2 separate regions of the Homo sapiens genome follow, and region 2 is linked to region 1. The links come from fine-mapping of genetic effects on gene expression. Tissue or cell type: thyroid. Region 1 holds a variant in brackets; the other region holds the start of a gene. All regions are shown on one strand. Distances are from middle to middle.

Region 1 (8,107 bases):
CCCCATCTTGCCCACCAGATTGTACATCCCATAAAGTAGGGACTTTTCTATCTTCCTAACTAAACATGGTATATCCGTTATCCAGCATAGTGTCTAGCATGTCTGGTGTCTGATGCACAATAATATTTTTGATAATTCACCAATGCATAGGAGGAAATTTATTACTGTCTGGATGAGTCAGAAATTGTCTCCCAGAAGAGAAAAGATTTGGGTTGGATTTTGAAGGACAAATATGAGCTTGTCAGCTTGAAAAAGAGATAGGCATTCAGGAAAACAGACCAGCACAGTCAAAGACAAAATCATTATAGGTTATGTTTAAGAAAAAGATCAAGTAAGAAGTTCATGGTGGCTGAAGCAGAGTTTGTATGTGTATAGAGTGGGTGTACTGAGGTGCAGAGAATGGTCTGGGAGTGGGTTTATGTAGAAGATGTACAGTTGGAGACAGATAGTGAAGGAGATTTTTGTTATATAATAATTTTAGACTATTTTCTGTAAAGGTGACAGGCACCACAAACAGTTACAGGAAGGAGATTGGTATGTTCAGATTATACCAATTCATTCATTTATTTTAGGAGCATAATTATGGGAGCAATGTGGAAGATGGAATAAACAGGAGAGAAACAAGAACAGAAAAATAAGCTATTTTCTAGTTGTGATACCTGCAGCTATAAAGGAAAGGCTGCAATCAGGGAATAGTCCTGAGGTAGAATAGACAGGATTTGCTAGCTTGTTAATAAGGTGGACGGTGACAAAATGAACAGAGATTATGAATATGGAAGGAGAAACATATTTGGAAAAGAGAATAATTGATTTGATGTGCTCAAAGGCAATACAGTGGGTTAGGAAATTGGCAATATACTTGTGGATCCCAGGAGAGAGGTCCAGGCTGGAGATACAGATTGAGGGGTACAGTTGCCAGCTTTTAGACTGATGGAAGCAATGGGAAGCTCATGAAGAGGCTTGAAACTTAACATGGAAATGAAAGTCAGATACTAGAGAATGCTAACATTTAAAATATCTAAACAGAATAAAAAGCCAATGAAGCTGGTAGAGAAGGGGCAATCATAGGCGCAAAAAAATTTAAGAAGTAGAAAGCAGTTGATAGAAGTCACGAAAGACTAAATGTTGGTCATTAATATCTAGAAATATAGTAATAACAAACCCTGCATTCTTTTCATAGTCTTTAGCATGGTCAACATTGATGCTACATCAATGAAGTCAATACCTAGGTAAATATTTTCCAGCACTAGTGGACTTTCTTTCCTATTTTTCTTTGGTTAGAAACTATTCTCCTGTTCTTCTCTGTCAAAAGTAGAAAACTTACAGCTCATTGTGAAAAATATCTTTGACTGATAGGAACTTCACATTGTGTTTGTTTTAGGGGCATTTCATAGGAATCATTTATTTCCAGAGATAAGTATTTAAAACTGAAATTTTGGCTTTAAATCTGATTTGGAAGCCATTGATATGGGAAGACCATGGTCTTCCGGCATCCTTAAATGTTTAATTCAATAGTTGGCTCCTGATTTTAGAAGGGCGATTGACCTAGGGTAGAGCTAGAGGAGAACTACTAGGATAATCCTAGTAGCCATTGAAGGACAAAACCTTAAGCCATGTTATAGTTTGAAAGATCCAGGATTGTAAACATGAGATGATACCTAACAGATAGCTGAGGGTGTTAAGTAGAGAAAGGACTGAATTTACTCTGTGGCACCTTAAAAGAGAACCGTGAAAGAGGGGTGACATGCTAAAGGGAGGCTGATTGTGTTTCTTATGTTGGACTGTCAGTTTCTTGAGAGTAGGATGTTTTATCATCTAACTCCGTCACTGGGCAATGCTTGACAGATAAAGAAAGTTTTAATATCTGTCTGTTGTACTAGTAAATTGAACCACTCAAATAATTAATTAATTAATCATTCATCCTGCAAGCTCATGAGTTGCCTGTATTAGAACTATTTGAACAGAAGTTAGATTTATCCTTAAAAGAGTGCGTTAGACTCCATGCGTGGGGGAGGGCTGTATTGGAGGACTTTGATGAATTCCTTCTCCACTTTGCTATAGTCGTATGCAATGACACTTGTGATGGCTGGAAACTTGAACTTCAAACATGCGCTGTCTGCAAGTGTTAAGGGGTAAGAAGAAGGAAATGATAAGAAAATGATGAGTTTTGTAGAGATCTGGCATTCATATTGCCCACCTGTAACTCAGGCATTCGACACACAAAAACTCACCATCACACAAGTAAGTTTAAGAAAATAACCACAGAACGTGCTGAGTCTCTTGGATGCCCCTGACTTGTATCCTTCACTTGAATGCACCCAACCTTATTCCTGGAATGTGCTTTTTTTCTGTGTCCCAAATGAGAACAGATTAGTTGGGTAAGAACATATCTCAGACCTTTAGCGTGGCTCAGAGAAACACTGGCATAGTTGATTCAGGAACTAGGAGCTATGTCTTGGGTGCATTAAAAAACAAAAACAAAAAACTATAAATACCTAAAGAAAAGTCTGATGGTTTTGCTGTTCAGTTTTGGCAGAGTTGAAATTAGCTGTAAGGAATCTGGAAATGTGATAATTTGGAAGATAATGAAGTCTCAAGATGCTCAGGACTTACCTGTCAAGGTGCTGACATCTTTGGAATTCTATCTTCAGTGCCATTTCCAAGTTCTAAAGAGAATATAGGCAAGAGTTCAAGCTGAATCTTATTCTTGTCCCTGACCTCCAGAAAATTACTAGTATACTAAAAATAAAATTTCTATTACCATGGTAGTCATAAGAGACAGTAGCGAATGGTTGAAAGCATGGGTTCTGGCGGTTGCCAAACTAGATTTGACTGGGGGCCCAGCTTTGTGATTTTTGGCAAGTTGCTTATCCGCTCTCCAAACTTTAAATTCTTCATCTGTTAAAATGAAAATACTAATACCTACATCATAGGGTTGCCTTTGAGAGTAGAATTAATTATTATTAATTCTATACAATGGAATTAACTTATAAACTGATTCTTCAACACAGAATATTTTTGGAGCACTCAATATGGTAATTTTCATGTGGATTGGATAGATTAATCATACCCAGAATGGGCAGAAATATTTTGCAATGCTCACAGGGGAGACTGAGAAATCCCAAATCAAATCTAAAAACTTTACAATGGCATGAGATTCCTGCTTGCTCTGTCCCCTTCTCCTGTTGCCTATTGAAATGACTGGGAGAGCTGTTAAGCAAGTGCTTAACTCCTCAGGGATTGATGAGTCAGAGTCAGCAAAGAGGACTCTGCTAAGCCTCTGTGACCCTGAGCCCTCCCTTCTCCCAGGTTATGACTGATTCTTGCCCAGTTTTGCATTATTTCACCATGGAGACAAATGTTCTAAAGAGGGAAGGAGGATTTGCTGGGCTTGTTTATTGCTGTAATAACATCTGTCAGGTGTTAAGCAACTACCTTCTCTCCAGCTGCCCCCTTTCCTCCTGTTCCTTTGAATAAGCCTAGATAGTTACCCCAAATACCATTTCTACTGTAGATAGGAGAGTTGCCTCCAAGATTGGTCCTTGGTTGCCAGCTGTGAAAATACTGCCACATCTCCAGTGACACACTATTGTGCAGTGTTTATAACCTGGGGTTAGGCATCAGACTCAACAAGGTTTCCATCTCAGCTCTAGTTACCAACTTAACTTCTCTTACTTTCAGTTTCTCATCCATAAAATAGGATAATAATAGCTTATATTTGATGAAATTAGAGGAGATTATGGCTTTGTAGTAACCATTTCACGTATGTTAGCTTCTAAGATCATTATTATTAAAAATGTTCTCTGGAGCTTTAAATTTATTTTTGGAACTACTTATTCTGGATTCCAAACAGCCCTGGTAGGAGTATAAACTCTGAAAACTACTGGCTCAGGCTCCTGGCTATCTCCAGATTTATGTACATGCCTCTCTTAGTAGGCAAAGTGTCTGGCCAAACTATTGATTGAATGACTCTGTATCAATTATCTTTTGTTGCAGTTATTATTCCTGATGAGACTGTTGGCTAGCTAGATAGTTTTGGGTTCTGCTTATCTGATCTTTGCTTAGTTCTGCTGAGCTCAACGATGCATCTTATGTCTGCTGTTGGGTCAGTTAGAAACAGGCTGATATAGAATAGTGTCACTCACATGGCTGGCTATCAGTTTGGGTGATATGGAGGATGGGACTGTGTATTTCTTCTCATCCAGCAGGCTAGCCTAGGCTTATTTTCATGCTAGAAATTGGGTTCTGAGACAAGAGAGAGGTAAAGCATGCAAGGTTTCTTGATTGTACCCCATCATATTGCATTCTGTTGGCCAAAGCAAGTCACAAAAGCGAGCCCAGGCATAAGAAGCATGAAAATAGACCTCAACTAGCAAAGGACGGATATGCAAAGGCATATTGCAAAGGGTATGGATACAGGGAGTTGTGAACACATAGGGCCATCAGTTTACCATGTACTCACCGTAAAGTAATCATTAGCCCTGGGCATCAATATTCTTGACTCAATAACTGGAACATAAAACTGAACTATTAATCCACTATATTCCATTCAATGTGTTGAAATTGTTGCCTTCTTTCAGTGTTTCAACAACCATTTTCCCAGTGTAGGTGCAAAGGAAGATGAACATAGTATTCTGAATAGGTCAGAGTTTCTGCTCTTTCCTTCTTTTCCACTCTTCCTTTTCACCCACAATCCTGCCTACTACTGAATGTTCTTTGAACTCAGTGATCTTCTCTATTCTGCAGAGTGTAAATCAAGTGTAGAAATAGGTAGGGCAAAAATATGAGAGTAGAATTTAAACTTCTAGAAGTTCTTTCTTCCACATTTGCTCTTGGAATCACTGCATAGTCAAAGTAATGCACAGTTGTCACTTGCCATTCAGTTTTGAGAAATGAGTCTCTCTTTTTCTTATTTCCCTCTCATGCCTATTGCC[A/G]ATATTTATTTTTCACCATGGAATGGTTGTTGTGAAATTTTTCCTACACTGAGTACTTTTTAAGTTTTTTTATAGCACATAGACCCACTATGGCTAGCATCTCATGGCTCACTTCCCATTAGACATTTGTGAACATGGTCTTTGGATGGTACTTAAGTTTTCTGGAGTGGCAGCGTAAACAGGAATGGAAATTCAGAACAAAGCATCAGAAGGAAATGCTGTGACGTGGGGCATGATGTTCAAGGACCAGTGAAACAAAGGCAAAAACACACAAAGAGTGACCCTGGAATGATTGATTTCATCAACAAGTATGAACCTCAGAGAATTAAGATTACAAAGTGCCATGAAAAGCCAGAAGTGTGATGCCTTTGTGCACCCAAAGACTTTACAATCTGGTTGTTAAGGCAGATCCTGATAGAAAAATATACAATGATATAAGAAGATCATTAAGGGCAGAATTGAGAGGGGTGGTCTGTAAAGAACAAAGTATTATAAGGATGGCTTGGAGTGGCCGAGAAAGGTTGACAGACTCTGGTAAACTGAAAACCCAGGTTATTTCTGAACTGACTCAGAATGGCTGTGTCACCAAAAAAAGGACAAAGGAGTCAAGGAGACTATGTGTACTTCCTTAATTATTTTTATGGTTTGCTGATTCATAGACTGATTGAGCTGCAGGGTTGGAGGGGACTGTAGCTGTCATCTAGCAAAGCTGCTTTCTTGCCATCCAATGTTGGAAAATATTGGAAGCCTTCTTCCACCGTCCTTTCCTTCAGTCCTTGAGTAGATCAGCAGTGCTTCAAACCTTACTGTATGGAATATTGACTTTCTGTGTCTCTGCTGACACACCCTGAAATGGGTAGAACTTAAGGCTCCTTGGAAGAAGACAGTTCATTTCCTGAGTCAGCACAGACCCATCACCTCAGCCTCAAAGCTCTCATTTTATATCTGAATCAAAGGGTGTCCTAAACATGGAACACAGCCCTTCCCTTCCTTTTTTTCCCCGTCAAAGTGAAAAATGGCTGGGTAGGAGCTCTAATTATGTGGAACATGCTGGACACTCTTTTCATGTCCAAGTAAATTGGTGTAACCACTGTCCTTGAAGCAATGAGGTGATGCTGTGGTAACCACAGAGATGGGCTGGTATGCTCACAGTAGCAACAAAATCTAGTATTTGCACAGTGTTTTATAATTGTAACGAGTATTTACATATATTATTTGAATCTTGTTAAATTCAGTACCCTAGACCTGATAACTATTATTATCATAGGCTCTCATTTTTTGAATCTGTAAACTGAGGCTTAGAGAAGTATAACTTGACTTAAATAAGTTAGTAATCAAAACCTAGAACCGAGATTTTTTTTCTCAACTCTCAATTCAGTGCTATTTTTACTACACTGTGATTATTTTTTCTTAATAGTTCATCCCATGATTTTTATTTGTTTGGTAACTTACTGTCTGTAAAAACTCCCCCAAAATAAATTAATGTCATTGGTCTTCATATTTTTCTTAAGAAAACTGGAAAGACTCCAAAGATTTGTCCCCTGTGATCCATTTTGGAACTTTAAGATGAACAAAATAGATCTATGGGAAGAAAAAAATAATATTTTAAAATTTAAGCAATTTTCTTTCTGTCTACTCTAAAAATATGAGTCTATTGCTTGTTAATGCTGACAACATCCCAGTGAGGTAAGGAGGTCAGGAACACTATTATCTCTCTGTTTTTAAAAGCGGGTACACAGAGAGGAAATAACTTGCCCAAGGACATGGTGACTCAGTCAGAAGAGGAGCCAGGATGAAAACAGCCCTCATTTTTTGACTTTCAATACAACCAAGACCCTGATCCAGATGGGTTACGGGATTATGGCCCTTCACAAATAAGTGCATATTAGTCAGATGTGGAAATAATTATGTCCCTTTCACATTCTGAACAGAAAGTGAACTCTCAAATATATTGGCAAAGGGGAAGCCAAGATTCTCCAAGACTTTTTCTTTCCTTCTTTTTATTTTTAAGTCACAGATGGCTAGTCTGAAAATGAGGGAAAAAAAACAACCTTTCCTTGTCTTTTCTCTTAGGCCTGGCCTCACATAACACCCCCTACCACACCCCTGTGGGAAGAAGGATTACACTTTCCACTATTCCCTAGAGTAGATTTTGTTCTTTTAAAATAAACAAACACTTGAAAACTTTTTTTCTTCTAATATTAGCTTTGGTCTTGAACCAGAATTGATTTGGCATGGAGTAACTAGAAAGGATGAATAGTATTCTCCATGAGCAGTAGAGGAGATTCTCTTTCCACAGAGCCTTTTAGAATCATCATTCAATATGATGAACCCAAAATGAGACTAATTTTGACCAAGAGAAATAATGACATGAGATAACCACTCATCATCCCTGTTGGCTGGGATTACCTAATGATGCCAAGTGGGGTGGCTGCCTACATTCCTATTTTCCCCACACCAGAATGACCATGTACCCTGGGTCTGGTTGTATAATAATAAATTATCCTTTTTTTTTTTAACTCAAGGAAGGATTGCCTTTTTCAATTCACACAAAGATTCTTCACAGTGTCTGGTAGAGGCCCTGATCCAGTCCTTCCTAGTGGCTCTATTCCTCTACTCCCAAATTAAACCTGCTTTCTCATATGCTGGCAAAGTTGGATTACATGGCAGGTTAGTTACTTGCTGAAATGACTCTTTGGTATTTGATCCTTTTTCTGCAACATGTATATAGTTTTCTTACAGATAATGGGTCTATAACTTTATAAGATTATAAAAATAAGATCATATTTGTAGGATAAACATTTAGAATTAGAACCAGTGTGGTGATGGAATCCTCTTTATCTAGTTATCTAGGAAATACAACCTTGGAGAGAAACTATGAATGGGTAAGTGGAGATGTGAACAGCCCTGTTTTGGTCTGCTAAAACTATCATAACAAAATACCACAGCCTGGGTGGCTTAAACAACAGATTTTATTCCTAACGTTTTGAGAGTCTCAGGAGCCCAGGATCAAGATGTTGGCAAAGTAGGTTTTATCCTGAGGCCTCTTCTCTTAGTGGCTGCTTTCTGGCTGTGTACTCACAGAACCTCTTTGTGAGCTTGTGAAGAGGGAGAGAGCTCCTTGGTGTCTCTTATAAGGACACTAATCCTATTGGAACAGGGCTCCACACTTA
Region 2 (8,107 bases), 260 kb after region 1:
GTACAGCTCTGGTTTTTAGAGAAAGTTTAGAAAAAATAATGTATATAAAATATTTAGCAGAGTTTCTGGGATATAATAACAAACTCAATAATAATAACTATCATTAAGGCCGAAGCTGAACATCTTATTTTGCTAAGTCCAGATTGATTGTTACTGTAACTTTAAAAATAAGATGAACTAATTATAAGTGTTTCTTTCTCAAAATTCTATGCAAAGCTTTCCTTTAAAACTTTCAGGATAAGGACTTTTTTTCTGCTCGCTTAGAAAGCAGTTTAAATTTAGGCTGTCCGTATTTCAGTTTTGTGGTGGTCTTAACTTTATCAACTAAGAGCTTCATATTGCCACAGGTGTTTTTTTTTTTCCTTTTAAGTGGGAGAAAGTAAATAATTTATCAAATAGGTTCAGAAGCTAAAGCCTGGGGGAAAAATTTAGCAACTTTGCATCTAAATTTAATCTAAGAGTAACTGTGTTGAGAAATATCTTAGTTGTGAATGTATTTGGAAAGTATAGGCGTTCTCATTTCATAATTATTTTGGTTATCTAGAAAAAAATTATGGTTTCAATAGCAGAATATGCAATTTTATTTAAGGATGGATATTTTTTCCTAGAATGTAAATATTATTTCAGTTTGAAGACAGGAAAAAGTGGGACAGTGAACAACATATGCTTTCATTCAACAGTATGTAATGATTGGTCACTATGTATCAGGCACATATTAATCCAGTCAAAGATTAAATTGCCCACAAAGGCATTGCCAAAAGTAAGATATCCCAGATGTCCCAATGCAGGAGGCAGTAGGGTCTGGATTATGGTTGGGAAAGGGGGAATGTTTTGTTAAAGGTTTAAGGAAGTGTCAGCCACAAAGCATTGGATGCTTGGGGGAGAGGCGGTCTTGGCACACTGCTGCTGGGATTATCTTCTTCTCCCCAGCACAGCATATAGCACGTAAGCGGGCCCTGCAAGTCCAGCTTCATGCTGTGCTTCCACCTCTCAGTTGTGCCCTCCATTTCTGGGAATGGCCATGGGATCAGCCTTTGCTTGGGGGAGGGTCCCCACTTAGAGAACTGGACTATGGTGGCTGTTCTCAGTGCAGCGCAAAGTGTGGCTGGGCCCTTGTGTCAGGATCACCATGACAGCTTGCCAAAATGCAGATTCCTTTGGTGCTACAGAACGAAATCCTGGGTATGCATAGGCAGGTGTCCATCAGCTCTAAGAGTCTTCTTTATTTTCAGTTTTTGGAGCAAGGGTAAAAATAAAGTACAAAATAATTGTAGTAGAGCTAAACACACACACATGCACACACCCTTGGTTTTTAAAGTACAGCGTGTCTAATATACGATCTATTACTTTGGCTTTGTTTTAAGAAGGGGCAGAATTCATACCGGTCTTTGAAAGAAACATTTTTAACAGGTCTTTTTTCTTTTCTTTTTCTTTTCTCTTCTCTTTTCTTCTTTACTCTTCTCTTCCCCCCCTTTTCTTTTCTTTTTCCCTTCCCTTCCCCTCCCTTCCTCCATTTCCTTTTCTTCTTTTCCCCCTCCCCTTCCCTCCCCTCCCCATCGTTCCTTCTTCCTATTTGTGCTTGTCTTGTTTTCCAATAAGAAGGTACTGATAAGCTACAGACCACTCGTTACCCCGTAATGACCACTAAACAGCATTCACAGCCAAATGGGTTGGGTTAAAGGCCTGACCCCACAACTTATTAGTTGTGGAACTTGGGAATGTTTCTTAACTTCTTGGATTCCTCTGTTTCTAGATCCCTAGGAGATGGAAATACCTTCTTCTTGAAGATTAAATTAGGTATTATGTTAAGGAGCTAAACAGGTTATAGCCCAGACGTGTTCAATAAGTTCCTGGTACTCATAAACCTTATCTCAAGGCACTACCAATCTCATTTATTAATCACGGGAGTGTACATATCCTTCCTCAAACATTCTCCAACTCCATACGCTTCCCTTTGTAGATAACGCTCTTCTCCTCTTTCCCCGACTACTGAAAGAACATCCATTCTTTCAAGATCCAGTCCAAATGACACCTTCTCGGGTGTCTCTCCGTTTCCTATGTAGTTAGCCCGCCACGCGATTGCGTCAGAATATACTTCTCTCATAATACATATGCAACTGAACCATAATTATGCACCTAGGTGCTATGCCCTCTAGATTACGTGAAATGTCATTCTTAAATCTTCAGCACTTAGCCTGTTGCCTGGCACGTAACAGGTCACTAAATGCTCTCTCTATACACATGCTCACACAAGAATATGCATATGTATATATATGTATAAAATGCCTGGTTAAGATAGATTCATGCGCCGATGGCTGGTCAGAGGAACACATGGGTGTGCTCTGAAGGAAGCGATGGCCCTATGCGGACAGGGTAGTTGTCCTAGAGTCCCCAGGCGCACCTCAGTGCTTAGGCGCAGCGCTGAGGGGATGGCCTCTGCCACAGAGACAGTCGGATTTCTCCATTTTGGGACGCAGCTCGGCAGGGCACCGGGAGGGGGCGGCGTTGTCACGCAGCTGGATGCTCCACGGGTGACACCCCCGCACCCTACCCCTCACCCCCGAGCCGCGCAGCTTGAGTGACTAGGCCGGGGCTCCCCCAGTTAGGAGGTGCGGGCTGTTTTTCCTCCCAGTCTGGGCGGGCAGGGCTGAGCAGGGTTTGGGGAGTATTCTGTGACCCTGGCATTCTCCCCTCTGCCCCACCTCAGCCCCCGGCAGCGTCTAGGCGCTGGGAAAGCTGCTCCGGGTTAGTTGATGGAGGCAGCGAGCTGCCGAAGAGACGGCCACAGCTTTCTAGCAAAGAGTGGTGGTGGCGCGAGTGAGCGTGCGTAGAATTAGCTCTGCCGAAGTCACCGAAGCTGGAGGAGAGAATTCATTTTATTCTTGAAACTCCTACTTTTACGTCTCGTGGAAAACCAAATCGTATTCCACTGACACTATGATGCACTTAAAATGGCCAAACTTTAGGGGGCCGCGAGGAACGCGCTTCGCCGCCTCCAATTTTGTCAGAGAACTCGCAGCAAAGGCACCGGACACCTAGCGGCCCTTTCCCTGGACTCCGGGGCAGCACGCACTCCCCGGGCGCGCTCTCTGCGCCCACTCGGCCCGCCCAGTCCTCGGCCATTGGCTGCTCGCCCGCGTCTGCTCCGTGACGCGCCCTGACCCCCGCGAAGTACTGGCCCCTTGGAGCCACTCGTGCGCAGGAGCCGCGCACGCCCGAGGCCCGTGGTGCCGCCCCCGCGCCTTCTCGGGCTCGCCCAGAGCTCCCCGGCGCGCTTCCCGAGGTTTCGAGAATCGAAACCCAGTTATCAACAAGCCCTTCCCACTCACGCGCCGTGACTGATTTGCGTGCAAGAGTGGACTCATGAGTCCACACTTGGATCGGGTTTATCAATGGAGTAAATGGTCTACCTAAAAACCGAGGTTTAAAAGAGCGGTCGTGAGGAACCTCCGGAGCCCAACCGTGATGATCTAAAGACGGGCTGAGTCCGCGAGAATTTTGGGAAGTTTCTGCAGTTGCAGGATTTTAGTCGTGATCTGGTTTTGATGACCACTTATGATTCCTGGGGCATTTAAAGTGTCTCCTCCTGGGGAAAATGAAAAGAGATTTGTGGGAGGGGGCGTACATAAATTAAATGTATGTATAAATACACGCATCTACGGGCGCACACAGTATCCGCACATACAGCCCAGGACCTCACGCTCACCGGCAGTCGTCCCGCACTAACTGCTGGGCTAGTCAGCTGCGTGCCCTGCGGGCGGGGGAGGGCAGAGGGGGCGGCGCCCTATGCAGATGAGGAGGGTGTGGCGAACGTGCCGCTCTGGGCCCCGGAAGCGCAGAGAAGCCCGGTATAAAAAAAGTACTGAAGACATTTTCCCCGCACAACTGCTAAAGCTCCAGAGACACGAGCGTGTGTGGCAGCAAGAGCCGCCAGTTCGGGACCACCGCAGCTGGGGTGGCAGCGGCGCAGGAGGGGTCGCGGGGAGGGAGTGGTGAGCGCAGGCGGCAGGGGTCTGGGAAAGACGAAGTCGCTATTTGCTGTCTGAGCGCGCTCGCAGCTCCTGGAAGTGTTGCCGCCTCTCGGTTTCGCTCTCGCTCGCTGCGCTCCTAGAAGGGGCGGCCGCCTCCAGGTGACACAGACGGGACTCTCGCTTGCGCTTTCCAGATGCATCAGAGATACTTTTGGTGCGGGGCTGCTCTGCGGGGCGCGGTGCGCGGCTGGGGACTGTAAGGGCCGGGGGAGGGAGTCTCCGAGGAGGCCCGGGGTCAGGGAACTATCGGGGGAGGGGGCGCTCTTTTCCTGGCGGGCCTCTGCTCTCCGCCGCCGCGCGTGCTCTCCGCCGCCGCGCGTCCTCACCGCGCTCCTTTCCCTTTCTTTTTAGGACTGACCAGGGCCAAGTGGCGCTCGGCGGGCACTACATGGCGGAGGGTGAAGGGTACTTCGCCATGTCTGAGGACGAGCTGGCCTGCAGCCCCTACATCCCCCTAGGCGGCGACTTCGGCGGCGGCGACTTCGGCGGCGGCGACTTCGGCGGCGGCGACTTCGGCGGTGGCGGCAGCTTCGGTGGGCATTGCTTGGACTATTGCGAAAGCCCTACGGCGCACTGCAATGTGCTGAACTGGGAGCAAGTGCAGCGGCTGGACGGCATCCTGAGCGAGACCATTCCGATTCACGGGCGCGGCAACTTCCCCACGCTCGAGCTGCAGCCGAGCCTGATCGTGAAGGTGGTGCGGCGGCGCCTGGCCGAGAAGCGCATTGGCGTCCGCGACGTGCGCCTCAACGGCTCGGCAGCCAGCCATGTCCTGCACCAGGACAGCGGCCTGGGCTACAAGGACCTGGACCTCATCTTCTGCGCCGACCTGCGCGGGGAAGGGGAGTTTCAGACTGTGAAGGACGTCGTGCTGGACTGCCTGTTGGACTTCTTACCCGAGGGGGTGAACAAAGAGAAGATCACACCACTCACGCTCAAGGTAACACCACCCGAGATGCACTTGGGTCCTGACCCAGTCTGGGCCGGGTGTGACGGGGAGCGGGCAGAGGGGCATCGGTTAAATGCCATGAATCTGTGGCCATCACGAGTTTGGGCGCGCGTTATTTCTTTGATTTTTGATTTTTTAAACCAGTAAACTGACGTGCGTGGACGGTGTTGAGTGTTTCAGTTTACTTGATGCTTTGGCGCTACAACTCTTCTCCCAGGTCCTCCTCTGCCCTCTCTTCTCTTCTTTCTCCTTATGTTTTAACTCTTGGCTTTCCCTGTTGGAGTCTTGTCCAGAGTAGATTCTGATACTTGGCAGAATGAAATGATGTAAATAATTTTTGAGTCATTATATTTGAGTCTAGCCTTTGGGAAAATAACAGCCTGAAGCAGAAGTGAGTCAATGAGTTTTTTATTGTACTGGAAAAGGTGAATAGATTTCACAGCGGCATTCAGCTGACTACGTGTTAAAGGTCTATCTGGTGGTTCTTCGTGCTGGTTCATATGTTAAGGGTATAGTGGCACCCCCTCCCCACCCTCCACTTTAGTTCAAGACGGGTTTTATATGATTAGTTAAAATTGTCTGAGGAGGCAGGCTCCTGGAATGTCATAATTTAGTTTATATTTGATTGTAACTGCAGGGTGCCCCTGGAGGGACACACAAGATACTGATAACATTGATTGCCGCAGGCGGAGAGGAATTGGGTGGCTTGGAACAAGGGCGAGAGGCTGACTAACCTACCGCTGAATGCCCTTCCGAGTCTTTTGAATGTTGTTTGGATACTGTGTGAATATTGTGCCTATTAGACCGTTTTCAAAAAGTAACACTTAAAAAGTCAGACATGACAACAAAACCTCTTACTACTGTGCTACGTCTGCCAAAAGCCTCAAACTATTACCTCTAGTCCCTTTCCCAGACAGTAAAACTACTCGTTAAAAGTATTTTTTTTCTATTTTCAGAAGACCGTTTAAGCCTGTAGGTAGTGTTTGGCTGAAACTTGACAAAACAAAAGGGAAAGAGCAAAATAATTCTCAGCTGTGAAGAGGATGTATTTATTTATTGATTTATTATTTTCTAGGTTTGCTCATTTTGTTTTATCTTTTAAATTGTAGGAAGCTTATGTGCAGAAAATGGTTAAAGTGTGCAATGACTCTGACCGATGGAGTCTTATATCCCTGTCAAACAACAGTGGCAAAAATGTGGAACTGAAATTTGTGGATTCCCTCCGGAGGCAGTTTGAATTCAGTGTAGATTCTTTTCAAATCAAATTAGACTCTCTTCTGCTCTTTTATGAATGTTCAGAGAACCCAATGACTGAGACATTTCACCCCACAATAATCGGGGAGAGCGTCTATGGCGATTTCCAGGAAGCCTTTGATCACCTTTGTAACAAGATCATTGCCACCAGGAACCCAGAGGAAATCCGAGGGGGAGGCCTGCTTAAGTACTGCAACCTCTTGGTGAGGGGCTTTAGGCCCGCCTCTGATGAAATCAAGACCCTTCAAAGGTATATGTGTTCCAGGTTTTTCATCGACTTCTCAGACATTGGAGAGCAGCAGAGAAAACTGGAGTCCTATTTGCAGAACCACTTTGTGGGATTGGAAGACCGCAAGTATGAGTATCTCATGACCCTTCATGGAGTGGTAAATGAGAGCACAGTGTGCCTGATGGGACATGAAAGAAGACAGACTTTAAACCTTATCACCATGCTGGCTATCCGGGTGTTAGCTGACCAAAATGTCATTCCTAATGTGGCTAATGTCACTTGCTATTACCAGCCAGCCCCCTATGTAGCAGATGCCAACTTTAGCAATTACTACATTGCACAGGTTCAGCCAGTATTCACGTGCCAGCAACAGACCTACTCCACTTGGCTACCCTGCAATTAAGAATCATTTAAAAATGTCCTGTGGGGAAGCCATTTCAGACAAGACAGGAGAGAAAAAAAAAAAAAAGAAAAAAAAAAGAGTGATCCAGCCCTTATTAGGGATGTGTTTTGTGCAATGATGATATGCTCCTGGTTTTAAGTTTGGCAAAGCTTATGTATCTTTTAATAGATGTGGGAGCATGATCTCGAAAGGATCCTTTTCCCTTCTCTTATTCTCCTACCCAATTGGATTCTATCCTGCAAAAAAAGAGAGACCTGTCATTAGAAGCAACCAGGTTCTCCTGATACAAGAGAAGAAATGTGTGATGACAATATGGGTTTGCTGTATCTGCTCCCATAGCTTTGCCATAGGAAAAAAAAAAGTGGAAAGTTTCTTTTAAGATGGAATTCATAAAAGGGAAAATACGGAGGAAAAAAGGTCTCACTCCAACTTGTGAATCAGTTTAGGAGTTCAGATATTAATAGTAACAATACAGGAAAAAGGGGAACTCCAACGTTGGGATTACTGTCTGAGGCTTGTAGCAAGTGCTTTCTGTGGAATGATCTTGTTTTGCTAACAAACGGCTTGCTCCAAATGAACAGTAGTAGGTTGGTGCAGTTCTCGTAACAATCAGCAGAACTTATGATGACACAATCCATTAATTCCAGCTGCGTGCATAGATCACATTTTTAAAATGTAAAAATGCAAGCAAAAACAGCTGTAACAAAGAAAGTGTGCTCAAGGACCAAAGATTTAACAGATAAAAATACCCAATTAGAAGAGATATAGTAGACTATATGAAGAGAGATTATATTTGTTACACACCAATATACATCAAAGTGCCTGTTGCCTTCTGAAAATTTGAAGTGGCAAAATTATTTTATGGTTTAATGATTATTTTATTTTATCAGGGACTGCCTCAAGAAGAAAATAACATAAGCTTGTGAATGGTGGAGAAAATGCCCTATTTTTTCTTGCAAATACTTGTATAAAGTTAACATTTGTTGATCTGATATTATCATAGGTACATGTGTATGTGTGTATAAATTATATGTGTGTGTGTATATATACATTTTATATATACATTTTATATGTATATATACACAGTAGATTGACTATGATCTAGAATAATGTCTCAAATAGGAAATGTTTAAATACTGTGTGTTTTTATGTTTTCAACAGGATAACATGAGACGTGGGCATATTGCAATGATGAATTAAATCCACATCTAAAAAAATTAAATGAAGGAGGGAACCAAGTA

What was found. PIP is the estimated chance that this variant, and not a neighbour inherited with it, causes the effect.
Region 2: it holds the start of TENT5A, and the variant in region 1 is fine-mapped to the expression of TENT5A in thyroid (GTEx, PIP 0.99).

The regions. Positions count from the first base shown.
Region 1 is chr6:82,012,697-82,020,803 of GRCh38, reverse strand. All of the region lies in intron 3 of LINC02542 (long intergenic non-protein coding RNA 2542), which reads left to right. It overlaps LOC107986617 (a long non-coding RNA gene), which reads right to left and starts at 3,200. Exons shown (of 4, transcript XR_001744231.2): 1 at 2,762-3,200; 2 at 2,614-2,666. RefSeq lists an enhancer at 3,118-3,412. The variant A/G (reference allele first, on the strand shown) is at 4,935.
Region 2 is chr6:81,748,454-81,756,560 of GRCh38, reverse strand. It overlaps TENT5A (terminal nucleotidyltransferase 5A), which reads left to right and starts at 3,880. Exons shown (of 3, transcript NM_017633.3): 1 at 3,880-4,130; 2 at 4,383-4,971; 3 at 6,090-8,107. The coding sequence starts at 4,420. The coding sequence ends at 6,866. RefSeq lists enhancers at 2,809-2,858, 3,719-4,219 and a silencer at 3,679-3,808.